2 linked regions of the Homo sapiens genome follow. The protein of the gene in region 1 purifies or fractionates together with the protein of each later gene. This does not show direct contact. Each region holds a gene or a part of one and is shown on either strand. Other genes may lie near its edges.

Region 1 (6,093 bases):
ATGTGCATACTGGCCATTCTGAGACCCTCTAATAGACAGTGCCTGTTCAAGACATCTATGCATTTTTAAAATGATTTTTCTCATTAATTTTGTTTATGCTACACACACACAAATAAACACACACACACGGTATGAGTCCTTGGTCAGATATATAAATTGCAAATTTCTTCTTCCGGTCCATATTTTGCTCTTCATTTTCTTAGTGGTGTCTTCAGATGAAGAGAAGTTTCCAATTTTAAAGAAGTCTGAAGACAAATTTATCAATCATTTTCATGATCATTGCTTTCTGAGTCCTTTTTAAGAATCTCTGCCTATTCCAGGCACTAGTCCTTTATTTGCGCTTATGGTTTCAGCAGTTCTCCCCCTTGCTTTGACTTCATGAAATCCTGCATCTTTTGCAAGATTTGCACACCCTACCTTGTAGTCGATTTGCACTGCATTCATGTTATGTTGTTAGGTGCTGGACAACTTTAGTGTTACACACGTTTAAGTGGAGATCAGCTTTAAAACTAGAGAAACCATCAGTGATTACTTCCATATTACAATGATTTCTGTACAAATATATTCAAAACCTAAAGTAAAAAGAAAAAAATTCTAACACCCATTATCCTAGCATTTTTGTAGCATAAAGTGGAAGCTATGCATCTAATCGAGATCCTTCTACAGTTCCCACTGCCCGCAGGAGAGTTCCCACTCTCTTAGCTAAGAGTTCACAACCTGGCTCTAACCTTTCCTGGCTTCTCTCCCAGCAACACCTGTAATACTGTGGTCTGACCCCTGGACACCATGAGCTCTCACTTGTCCTAGCTTTGCTCTGTTTCTCCCTACGCCTTTATCCTCCAGTTAGCTCCCTTCCTCTTCTGGCCAGGCCCATCCCAGAAGAAGTAACTGTTCCCTTTTATGTGCTCTCACAGGTCTCTGTACCCACAATTATATTTGAGTCCTTATCATGCTTTATTAGTTAATCATTTATTTATTTGTCTCAACTGTCTACAAACTTCTGGACCTGGGACTTCTCCCTGAACTCCTCAAGGGTAGGGTCAGGAGTTAATGTTTACATCCTAAAGACTTGGCAGGGCTATTCCATAAAGGTTCAATGAAACAATAAATGTCCTAGCCACTTTTACTCATCCTATTTTATTAATAAATAAAGACTGGAAAAATTAGCACAAGTATATCAAAACAACAAGCTTAACTAAAATCAGTTTTCTTTTAAAAGTCCCCCAGCAAATTATTCTTTTAAAAAATGTAATAAAAACAAAAATCCCAATTATTGATTTGTGCTTCCTGATAGAAATTAGTCATAACTAGCCAGGCACAGTGGCTCACACCTGTAATCCCAACACTTTGGGAGGCTGAGGCAGGCGGATCACCTGAGGTCGGGAGCTCAAGACTAGCCTGACCAACACAGAGAAACCCCGTCTCTACTAACAATACAAAATTAGCCAGGCGTAGTGGCACATGTCTGTAATCCCAGCTACTCAGGAGGCTGAGGCAGGAGAATCGCTTGAACCCGGGAGGCAGAGGCTGTGGTGAGCCGAGATCGTGCCATTGCACTCCAGCCCTGGCAACAAGAGCGAACCTCCCTCTCAAAAAAAAAAAAAAAAGAAATTAGTCATAACTCTGTTTCAAAATAACTTTTTAATTAATGGGCAACACAAGTAAGAAGAATATACCACTTAACCAAAGTAAATGTAATTGTTACCACACAAATCACTATTGGACGCCAATGGAATAAACCATGATTATTATTTACACAAGATCACAAACAAAACTACTGGCTTGAAATATGTGTTCATTCTAGGACATTGCTAGAGCCTTTGAAAAAGAAAAATATATATATTAAAAATGAAAAATTTGTACATGAATTAATGTTTCCCCTTAATACATAACACATCTGTATGTCATAGGAAGATAGTAGGCATGGTGGTAGTAAGACAGTAAGAACACAGGCTGGAAACACAATGCTAATTGTGTGATATGGACAAATTACTTAAACTTCAATGTGCTTCAGTTTCCTCATCTGCAAAATAAAGATAATAAATGTATCCGCCTCACAGTGATGCTAGATGACTGAGTTGGCACATATAAGTCCCCGGATTCAGTGCCTGGCAGAGTACATGAATGCAGAGGAATAAATTTCAAATATTTTCACTGTTTTTTTAACTTTTTAAAGCCCTTTCACACATACTGTCTTTTCTTTTTCCTCCCAACAGTGCAATGAGATTGTTTGAATAAGAAATACTCACTTTAGAGATAAGACACCAATAGTGAAGTTGTATGATTACCCTAAGATATTTTTAAGTGGCAGAGTTTGGACTAGAATCCACCCATAACCTCAACCCCAGGACAAACTGACCAAATCTCCATGGATCCAGTTTGGAAGAATCTTTTGGGTTTTCCCCATTGCTTCCTCCTGGTTGTCAGCAACAGCCAGCCTAAAGACCTGGTGGGGGCAGATGCAGACGACCATGTGTTCAAATTAAAAAGTAGGAGAAGCCTAGCTTTCACAGAAACTGACACATAGTTGGCACTCCAGAGATTGCAGCTATTGATGACTGAAACACAAGCGCTATTACGTTTTTCTCAGTTACAGAACAAGGTACTACTCCATAAAATCAAGCCTACTACCAAAAACAAAAGTCAGTTAACATTATGCTTATCTGTCATATCAAGCATATCAAAGTACAATGTGCAACAGAAACCTAAACGAAAAAGTGATGATGTATTTTTACTTACTCTCAAAAAATATGTTTTACAAAAAGGGCTTTCATCAAGTCAGTTTTTTGAAAACTAACCCACGTAGTTATACTTCATGAGATGACGTTTCTTTGAACAAATAAGTTAATGATATGAATAAATATTTCATCTTGGTAATGCCTTCAACACATATCTTCAATACTTTTCTTGGACTTAAAGTGACTTCAATCCCTAATCTCATCTACTGCCATGTACACAAGAAACACAGTTAATGAACTTTAAAGGCAGATGCAGTATTTCCAGGGAAGCCACCTGAACCAGGGAAGTACAAGAAAGCAAAACATCTCCACAACCACATCTAAGTGCCTTATCTTTCAACTTCTTTTCTTCAAATGGGCAATTAGAAGCTACGATACACCTTAAAGATCAGGTTTGGCATCCGCCCTGGCTAGGGCCTACCTTTCTTTTCGCGGCACTGCCACTCTGGCACCTACAGGCAGGCCTTTGGCGCCTGCAGGACTCGCAGGGAAGACAACCCCAGCCCCTGCTCTCCACGGCTCTCGTCGAAGCCCCGCACGTGGTGACCACTTGAGACGTTTTAGTGCATGGGATTTAACAGGGTCAGACCTCAGGTTGCGTTCCGGGACAGTGCAGCTCCCAGACCCGCTGAGGTCGCAGGAGGAAGGTTTTGACGCTCCTAGCGTAAACACCGACGGGACCCTCTTCGCCCCGCGGCTACCTCGCCCTCGCCGCTCGCGCGGCCCCTCAGCACCTGACGCCTCAGCCAGCCTCCAGGAGTCGCTTCCCCGCGCCTCCTTCCACCTGAGCCAGCGACGCTACCGCCACCTGCACCGGGACCCCAAATGCCAGGCCAGTGGCCGTTACCCGAGGTCGCGGCCCGGGGAAGGTCCATGGCTCAGGAGGAAAAGCCCGGGCTGCAGCTCCCCTTCCTGCACCTCTGAGATCCCCCGGCCGCCGCCATTTTCCTCGCGCCGTAACCCCACCTGATAGTTCCAGCCTCCCACCTGTGACAAGCAGGGCACGCCGCGCGACGCCGAGTGGGGTGCGTGGGCAAGCTGGGGCTCCGTAGGGGTCACAACCTCCGTGCGGAACCCGCCGTTAATTCATCCCGTAACGCGGAGGCGTCCGGCCGTCGCCCTAGTAATGCGTCCCGGAAGGCTACGTCCTGATTGGCTGCAGGCGCCGTGACGCAACGGCGTCCCCGGCTGCGTGGGAAACCCGGGTCCCCGGCGCCCCGCGCTTGCTCCACAGCCCGGGATACCCCGGGTACCTTTCTTTGAGAGCTCCTTTAAAGAGGCCTCGCTTATTTCCTCGTCTGGCCTCCTGGAGAGGAGGGACCCACGGAACGGTGGGGTGTAGGGGTGAGAAAACAACGAAATAGGAAATTAGCGGAGGTCATTTGTCCGAGGGAACCTAATGGTTCATTCAACCCCTAGAGCTGCAAAATGGAAAACAGAAATCTGGGAGTTTAATTTACAAGCCTAAATTTGGTGCGCGAAGTCACAGGACAAATCAGTAGTAGAAGCAGTTATAGAACCCAGGTTCCCTGATCAGGAGCACAAAGTTTTTCTAGCACACTCAGTGTTTCCCCAGTCCTAGAAAATGTTTCCTCCCAGTTCCCATAGCAATTTCATCACACTGCTCTTAAAAGGTCTCGATCACCTATCATGGTGTGTCTGTCCTGTCCCCTAACCTACTAGATTGCATGCCCCTGAATGGTGGGGACTGTGGTTAAACCCCTTTTCATTTCCCTTAAGCAATTCCCTCCTCAACTTGGCCTTCAACAAATACAATAAGAATCTTAAAAATAATAAACATAGCTACACATCACACACAGCCACTCATCAGTAGTTCATGTATGTCTATACGTTTTATCCGTTTATTCAACAAAGCACAGAGTGAATATTTTTAAAATTACAAGGTTCCTGACCTCACAAAATTTATGGTGTAATAATAATGACCATCTACATGTTGGCTGCATAGCTTCAATATAGCTAAATTATATCCCCAAATTGCCTGTAAATCAAAGATTCTTGTGCTCTTTTCCTAAATTAGCTTCATAATTTCTCTAAGTTTGTTCCAAAACATTTTAATATTTAAGATGTGCTAAAATTGCATCAGAAAGTGAAGAATGACTACAGAGAGAAACACCAGAACAAAAGTCAATTCTGCCAATTATGCCTATGACTTTAGGCCTCCTTTTTACCTTTAAAATAAGATTACTGGAATAAAAGATCTCCCAATTCTTTTTTGTTGTTGTTAAGAGTTGGCCTGGCTATGCTCCAGAACCTTCAAGGGCTCTACTGTGGTTCTTTGGGGGCTTGCCGGAGGTTCCTCATAGCCTTTGCAGCTCCATTGCAGAGAGCTCTAGCATTGTGAGGTGTGTCCGGTGATACAGCCCAAGAGGCAAGGTTGCCCTTACCGCCCTAACCACAGAGGACAGTGCTGGGCTCTTTCTTTTTTCTTTTCTTTGCTTTTTTTTTTTTTTTTTTTTTTTTTGAGACAGGGTCTCGCTCTGTCACCTAGGCTGGAGTGCAGTGGCATGATTGTGGCCCACTACAACCCCTGCCTCCTGGACTCAAGCAATCCTCCCACCTCAGCCTCCAGACTAACTGGAACTACAGGCATCTGCCACCATGCCCAGCTAATTTTGTGTTTTTTGTAGAGACAGGATTTCAACATGTTGCCAGGCTGGTCTCGAACTCCTGAGCTCAAGCTATCCACCCACCTTGGCCTCTCAAAGTGCTGGGATTAGAGGCTTGAGCCACCGCGCCTGGCCCTGAGCCCGTTCTTGATCTGAGCTACTGATCAGTAGCCACCTTCCACGTCAACTGCTAAAGGGATAGGAACAGAATTCCCAAGGGCAAAATATGCTGATTTCTAAACTCAGAGATCTGCTAAGTGTCATGCTTCTTTCTTTTTGGCAGAGGTGCAAGGTGTAGTAACATGTTTTTCATTCTGGGGAAAATGTCTTGACGTGCCCAAGATCATTGGACCACTTCAGCATCCAAAATGATGTATAGTTTACATAATGCTATTGTACCAGGATCATTCTTTGTTTTGATACATGTTCTATGCTTACACAAGATGTTGACATAAGGGGAAGCTAGGTAAAGAATATATGGAAAAATCCCTGTACTCTCTTTACATCTCTCCTAAGTCTAAAACTACCCCCCCAGTTTTTTAAATAATTATTTTAAAATATCACCAATGTAGCAAGCTCCTGAATTTTTGTGGGGTTTATCCGCGTCTGAAATGTATGTATTTCATCAAGACATCCAGAGAAGTAGTCCCCGACCTTTTTGGCACCAGGGACTGCTTTCGTGGAAGACAGTTTTTCCATGAACGGGGTGAAGGGTGAAGGGGGTGATT
Region 2 (5,215 bases), on another chromosome or scaffold:
ATATCTGTGTCAGAAAATCCTATGTATCCAGAATAGAGTAAAATTTCAGGACAAAACATGGACTTTTTAACAGTTCTTACTTTACCCATTTTAAGTTATTTTTATCTCCCCTACCCCCCAGGGCAGTAATTCAGCAAGATCCAGCAGAAAGAGGGCTATTTGATGTTTCTTCCCATGGGGAGAGTGTCAGGGAGCCTGGACATTTCAGGCTCATGCATCCATGACCAGTCTCCCACTGGGGTCAGAAAAATTCAGCCATAGACTTGGTGAACTTGGCTTCCCGCTGCTGCTTTGTTCTCCTGCTGATGAAGGTCAGCTTCAGGGTGTATCTGCCATCAAACCTTTTAAGACTGGAGGGCAGCTCCCAAATAGCATCAGAATCCACTCCTGTAGGCTCTTTTCTGTGGGCCACGAGAAAGATGGTCTTCTCCTTAGATGAGGTCTAAATAGTCAGAATTCCCATCATCACAAAGCCAAAACGGGCTTGGACTCTGGAAAGGGATGCATATAATCCCAAATCACAGCCACTATGGCAAAGCAACAGGAGATTGTACAGATGGTGAGGTGACCGTCAATTAGACAAAAATTCTCCACGTATTTGTATTTTTCCAGAAGTATCTTTTTGGCAGAATCATCCAGAGTTTTTCACAGCTGATCCATCCCACTTGTCCGTTTTTCCAGGCATATCACTTATCTTCGACTTATCCACATGCCGCTACGGCCACTGCCTGTCCCGCAGCTGGAACCCCCGCCAACCCCACCACCGCCTGCGCTACCGCCCCCCTCCCGCCCGTGCAGCTGCTGCCGCCATCTGTCCGCCTCTGAGTCTCCCTCCAGAGAATATCTTTGTGATCTTCTGTTAAGCAATGTCTTCTTTGATAGATCCCAAAAACATTATTTCCGAAAAAAGAAGAATAAATGTGACTTTAAGCATTTAAAAATTTCCCTTCAATTGACACCATTAAGAGAATGAAAATATAAGCCACAGACTGAAATAAAATATTTTCAAGTCATATACTTGTATCCAGAATATTTAAAGAATTTTCAAAACTCAGCAATAAGAAAACTCTGTTTTCAAATGGGCAAAAGATTTGAACACAAAACTTCCACAAGGCAATAATATGAACGACAAAGCACATGAAAAGCTGCTCAACATCATTTCCCACCTGGGATCCACGAGCTAAAACCACAATAAGATAGCATGGCACCCATGTTAGAAAGGCTACAATAAAAATGATCAACAAGATAAGCCAGGCACAGTGGCTCATGCCTGAAATCCCAGCACTTTGGGAGTCCAAGGAGGCAGAAGGATGGTTGGAGGCTAGGAGTTTGAGACCAGCCTGGGCAACCTATCTTTAAAAAAATTAATTTTTAAAAAGATGAACAATACCAAGTGTTGGTGAATATGTGGGAGAATTGGAAGTCTCATCCATTGCTGATGGGGATGAAAGATGATGCCACATCGCCAAGCAGTTTGGCAAAGCTTCTGATGCTGAGTAGGTACTTATGATATGACCCAACACTCTCACCCCCAGATTCTTACCCAAGAGCAATGAAAGCAAGACTCTGTCTCTAAAAAATATAATTAAAAAGAAGATGAACAATACCAAGTGTTGGTGAAGACATCGGAGAACTGGAAGTCTCATGTATTGCTCATGGGGATGAAAGATGATGCCACATTGGCGAGCAGTTTGGCAAAGCTTCAGATGCTGAGCATGTACTTATCATATGAGCCAGCACTCCCACTCCCAGGTTCTTAACCAAGAGCACTGAGAACAACGTGTGTGCACACATAGCAGGTGTTTTTCTTTGCTAGAGCTTCCACAAGCAGGAACCACACATGGGGTGTTGGAACAAGAAATGTATTTTCTCACATATCTGCAGGCTGGAAGTCCCAGAGCACGGTGTCTGCAGGGTTGGTGTCTCCCAAGGCCTCTCTCCTTGCCTTGTAGATGGCCACCTGTTCTCTGTGTCCTCCCAGTCTTCCCTCAGTTTGTGTCTCTGTCATAATCTCCCCTTCATAAAAGGACACCAGTCACTCTGGATTAGGGCTCACTCTAGTAGCCTCATCTAACATCCATTACCTCTTTCAAGACCCTGTCTCCACATATAGTCACATTCTGAGGTACTGGGAGTCAGGATGTCAACCTATGAATTTGGAGGAGGATATAGTTCAGCCCATAATACAAGGATTGGGAGGAAGGGTGCTGTGTCACCACTGAGATCCTATTCCATGATCCAGGCATTCTTGAAGTACCATTACTCAGAACTGACTAGTAATGAACTTGAATTTTAAGAATAAGTTTAATGTCAACAAGGTCTTTGTTCATCCTATGAATTTTGCATCCCTTCCCCCCACAGGAAGCAGATGATGCCCCGAGTATATCTACACTTGGGTAAGTTCGTAAGTTTAACGGGAACGTTTTGTCTGTCTCTACACTTGCCTGAACTCAAATTACATAGGAAAATATGTTCTCTATTTAACATGTTCAAATAATCTGATGACATAAGGGAAAGTAGAAATGTTTCTCTGAACATTTATAGCCATTCATGTGGCTTATTGCACTCATCTTACTTGAAAAAATTATAGAATTCTTTATAACTAACATTTGAACTTACGCACAAAAATAAGGCCAAGCGTAGTTATTTTCTTTCTTTAAACACGTGTAATGTTGTCAGCCTGAATGTTTTTTAATGTTTCTAATAGTGTTTCATTGAGAGTCAGATCTTGTCATTTCAACTCTAAATACATCCACTGATGACAGCTCTGCCCCAACACTGCACAATTCCAGCCCAACTGCACACCACTTTTTCACCCTCCAAACTACAAAGCTGAAAGAAGACCCTTATAAAGAGGACCATGATCCAGTTTTAAGCACACATTCTAAAGGGTACCCTGTTCCCATGATGAAATAAAATTGTACAGCCATGACAAATGCATATTCTTCCCAGAGAATCTCAAGTACAGGATACACTTCTCACAGAACATAGAGTAATAGGAAATCTACTCACACATGATGCTGAGTAAATTATTTACTCCTTGTTTGCTGTTTCATTTTTCTTTCCATAAAATGAACATATATTAACTTTATATTTTAAAAAGCAGCTTTATACAACATTTCCCAGAGTTTTAGGGTTTAGATATTGCGCTCCTACACTCTACTAAAGTTTCATCTAGAACCATTTAATACAACCTAAAAGAAAATGAAGTGGAAAGGTAAGAGTCATTGGCTCAAACCACCCCAGGTGCACAGACACAGGCACGTGCACACACACACACTCGCACACAGTCACACTCTCTCACACTGACACAGCCTCCTTCCTGCCTTCACCTCACATCTCAGTCCCCAGCCTGCCTGCCATATTCCTCCCATCACTGCAGGGAGTCCCAGCCGGCCCCACAGGGGAAGCCCCCACCCCAGCCTGCACAGAACAGCCCCGTGCTCTCTGGGCACACAGCAGCTGCAGCCGTCCTGGCCCAGGACCTCTGGGGTCTCTGCCACCATTCCAGTAGGTCATGCTGCTCAGGGGGGCCAGATGGCCAAACCAGGTAGGGCCCAGTGGACATAAGCCCAGTGACACGGCCGACATTATTCAGGGAGGGTGTGTGAGGGAGGCTGCTCGTGCTGGGAAGAAGGAGCACCCACACCTCATGGCTCGGAGCTGCTTGGGGTTCCTCTAGAGGCACCTGGGACCCCAGACTGCTGAGGTCACCGCATGCCTCCCGGTCTCCCCCTCACAGATGAGTGCACCCAGCTGGCCTCATCCTCCCAACCCAGCTGCCCTGGATCATGGAGGAACATTTATTTTTTTATTTTTTTATTTTTTTGAGACAGGGTCTTACTCTGTCACCCAGGCTGCAGTGCAGTGGCACAATCTCAGGTCACTACAACCTTTGCCACTTGGATTCTTGCAATCCACCCACCTCAGCCTCCCAAGTAGCTGGGACCACAGGCTCATGCCACCACACTGAGCCAACTTTTGTAGAGATGGGGTGTCACCATGTTGCCCACACTGGTCTCGAACTCCTGAGCTCAAGCGATTTGCCTGCCTCAGCCTCCTAAAGTGTTGGGACTACAGACATGAGTCACTGTGTCTGGCCATGGAGCAACATTTAGATGGGGGAGAATTTAATACCTAACTTATACTCAGAACTTATAACCTTGTTACATGCTAATTGTATCAGTTTGAAGATGATAGTATAGGTTAAAAATATTCTGCACCTCCCTTCCTGAATTTTAATTTCTTCAACAATATGGCATAGATTACACTCATGACGTTTCATATAGATGTGTTTTATTCTTGTCAGGAAATTCACCCTCTCATGATGTGCATATACCGTGGCTTAGTCAACCATTGTTCACTATGGGATATTAAGTTTATGACCAAGTTTAGGTTTTGCAAACAAAATTGCAAGAAGCACCTTTGTGCCAAGGTTGTCAGATACTGACAATATTGTTTTGTTTCTGTGGAACACTTAAAAGTCAAAGGGCATTTGCATTTTAAATCCTCATAGTTTCTTTTTACTTACTTTACCAAAAGGTTTAAACAATGCAAATTTCCTTCAATTTCCTCACCCTTTTCAGCACCAGATATTAGCAAGGTATTTTTAGTTTTATCCAAATAACACTTTTAATTGTTTCAATGTGCATTTTCCTTATTACTAATGAGACTGAACATATTGTCATTCTCTTTTTTACCGTTTCACAGTTCCTCTTGTATGAATTAGCTTTTCAAAGGTTTGCGCACTTTTAAATGGAGTTGTTTGTATTGTCGATACTAAGTGCTCTCTGCACGTTAGGGATAGTAATTCTCTGATCTGTGTGTTTCCAACGTATTTCTTTCAGTCTGTCTTTTAAAATTTTGTGTTTATCGTGTCTTTTGCAACGTGAAGTTCATAAATTTTTGTGAAGTCAGTTGTCAAATGTACCTGTCTTGCTTTAAAAAGTCTTTCTTACTCCAGGGTTATACCAAAATCATACAGAACTCTTTGCTGATATTTTTATAATTTTTCTGTTTTGACTTTCCTTATATTTTGATTTTCAAGCCATCTTCAACTTATTTTTGCATACAGGGAGAGAGCTAAGGTTACTTTATCTCGAAGACTTAAGTAATGGTTACCACCTCGTTTATGAAACAATACACCTTTCCATCTAATTCAAAGGCCCCCTTTTCTAGTGCTTGCCATAAGCACTAGACTCAGATCTGTTTCTAC

What was found. Proteins that work in one complex are often made in the same cells at the same time.
Region 2: the proteins of LCLAT1 (region 1) and ZDHHC11 purify together in Homo sapiens (co-immunoprecipitation; one large-scale study listed by IntAct). This does not show direct contact.

Annotation. Positions count from the first base shown.
Region 1 is NC_000002.12:30,445,016-30,451,108, reverse strand, and holds the start of LCLAT1 (lysocardiolipin acyltransferase 1), read right to left. Parts: upstream 3,864-6,093; 5' UTR 3,726-3,863; exon of another isoform or gene 3,586-3,725; intron 1-3,585. UniProt on the Homo sapiens protein: Exhibits acyl-CoA:lysocardiolipin acyltransferase (ALCAT) activity; catalyzes the reacylation of lyso-cardiolipin to cardiolipin (CL), a key step in CL remodeling.
Region 2 is NC_000005.10:811,942-817,156, reverse strand, and holds part of ZDHHC11 (palmitoyltransferase ZDHHC11), read left to right. Parts: exon of another isoform or gene 1-830; intron 831-2,361; coding exon 2,362-2,396; intron 2,397-5,215. UniProt on the Homo sapiens protein: Endoplasmic reticulum-localized palmitoyltransferase that could catalyze the addition of palmitate onto various protein substrates and be involved in a variety of cellular processes.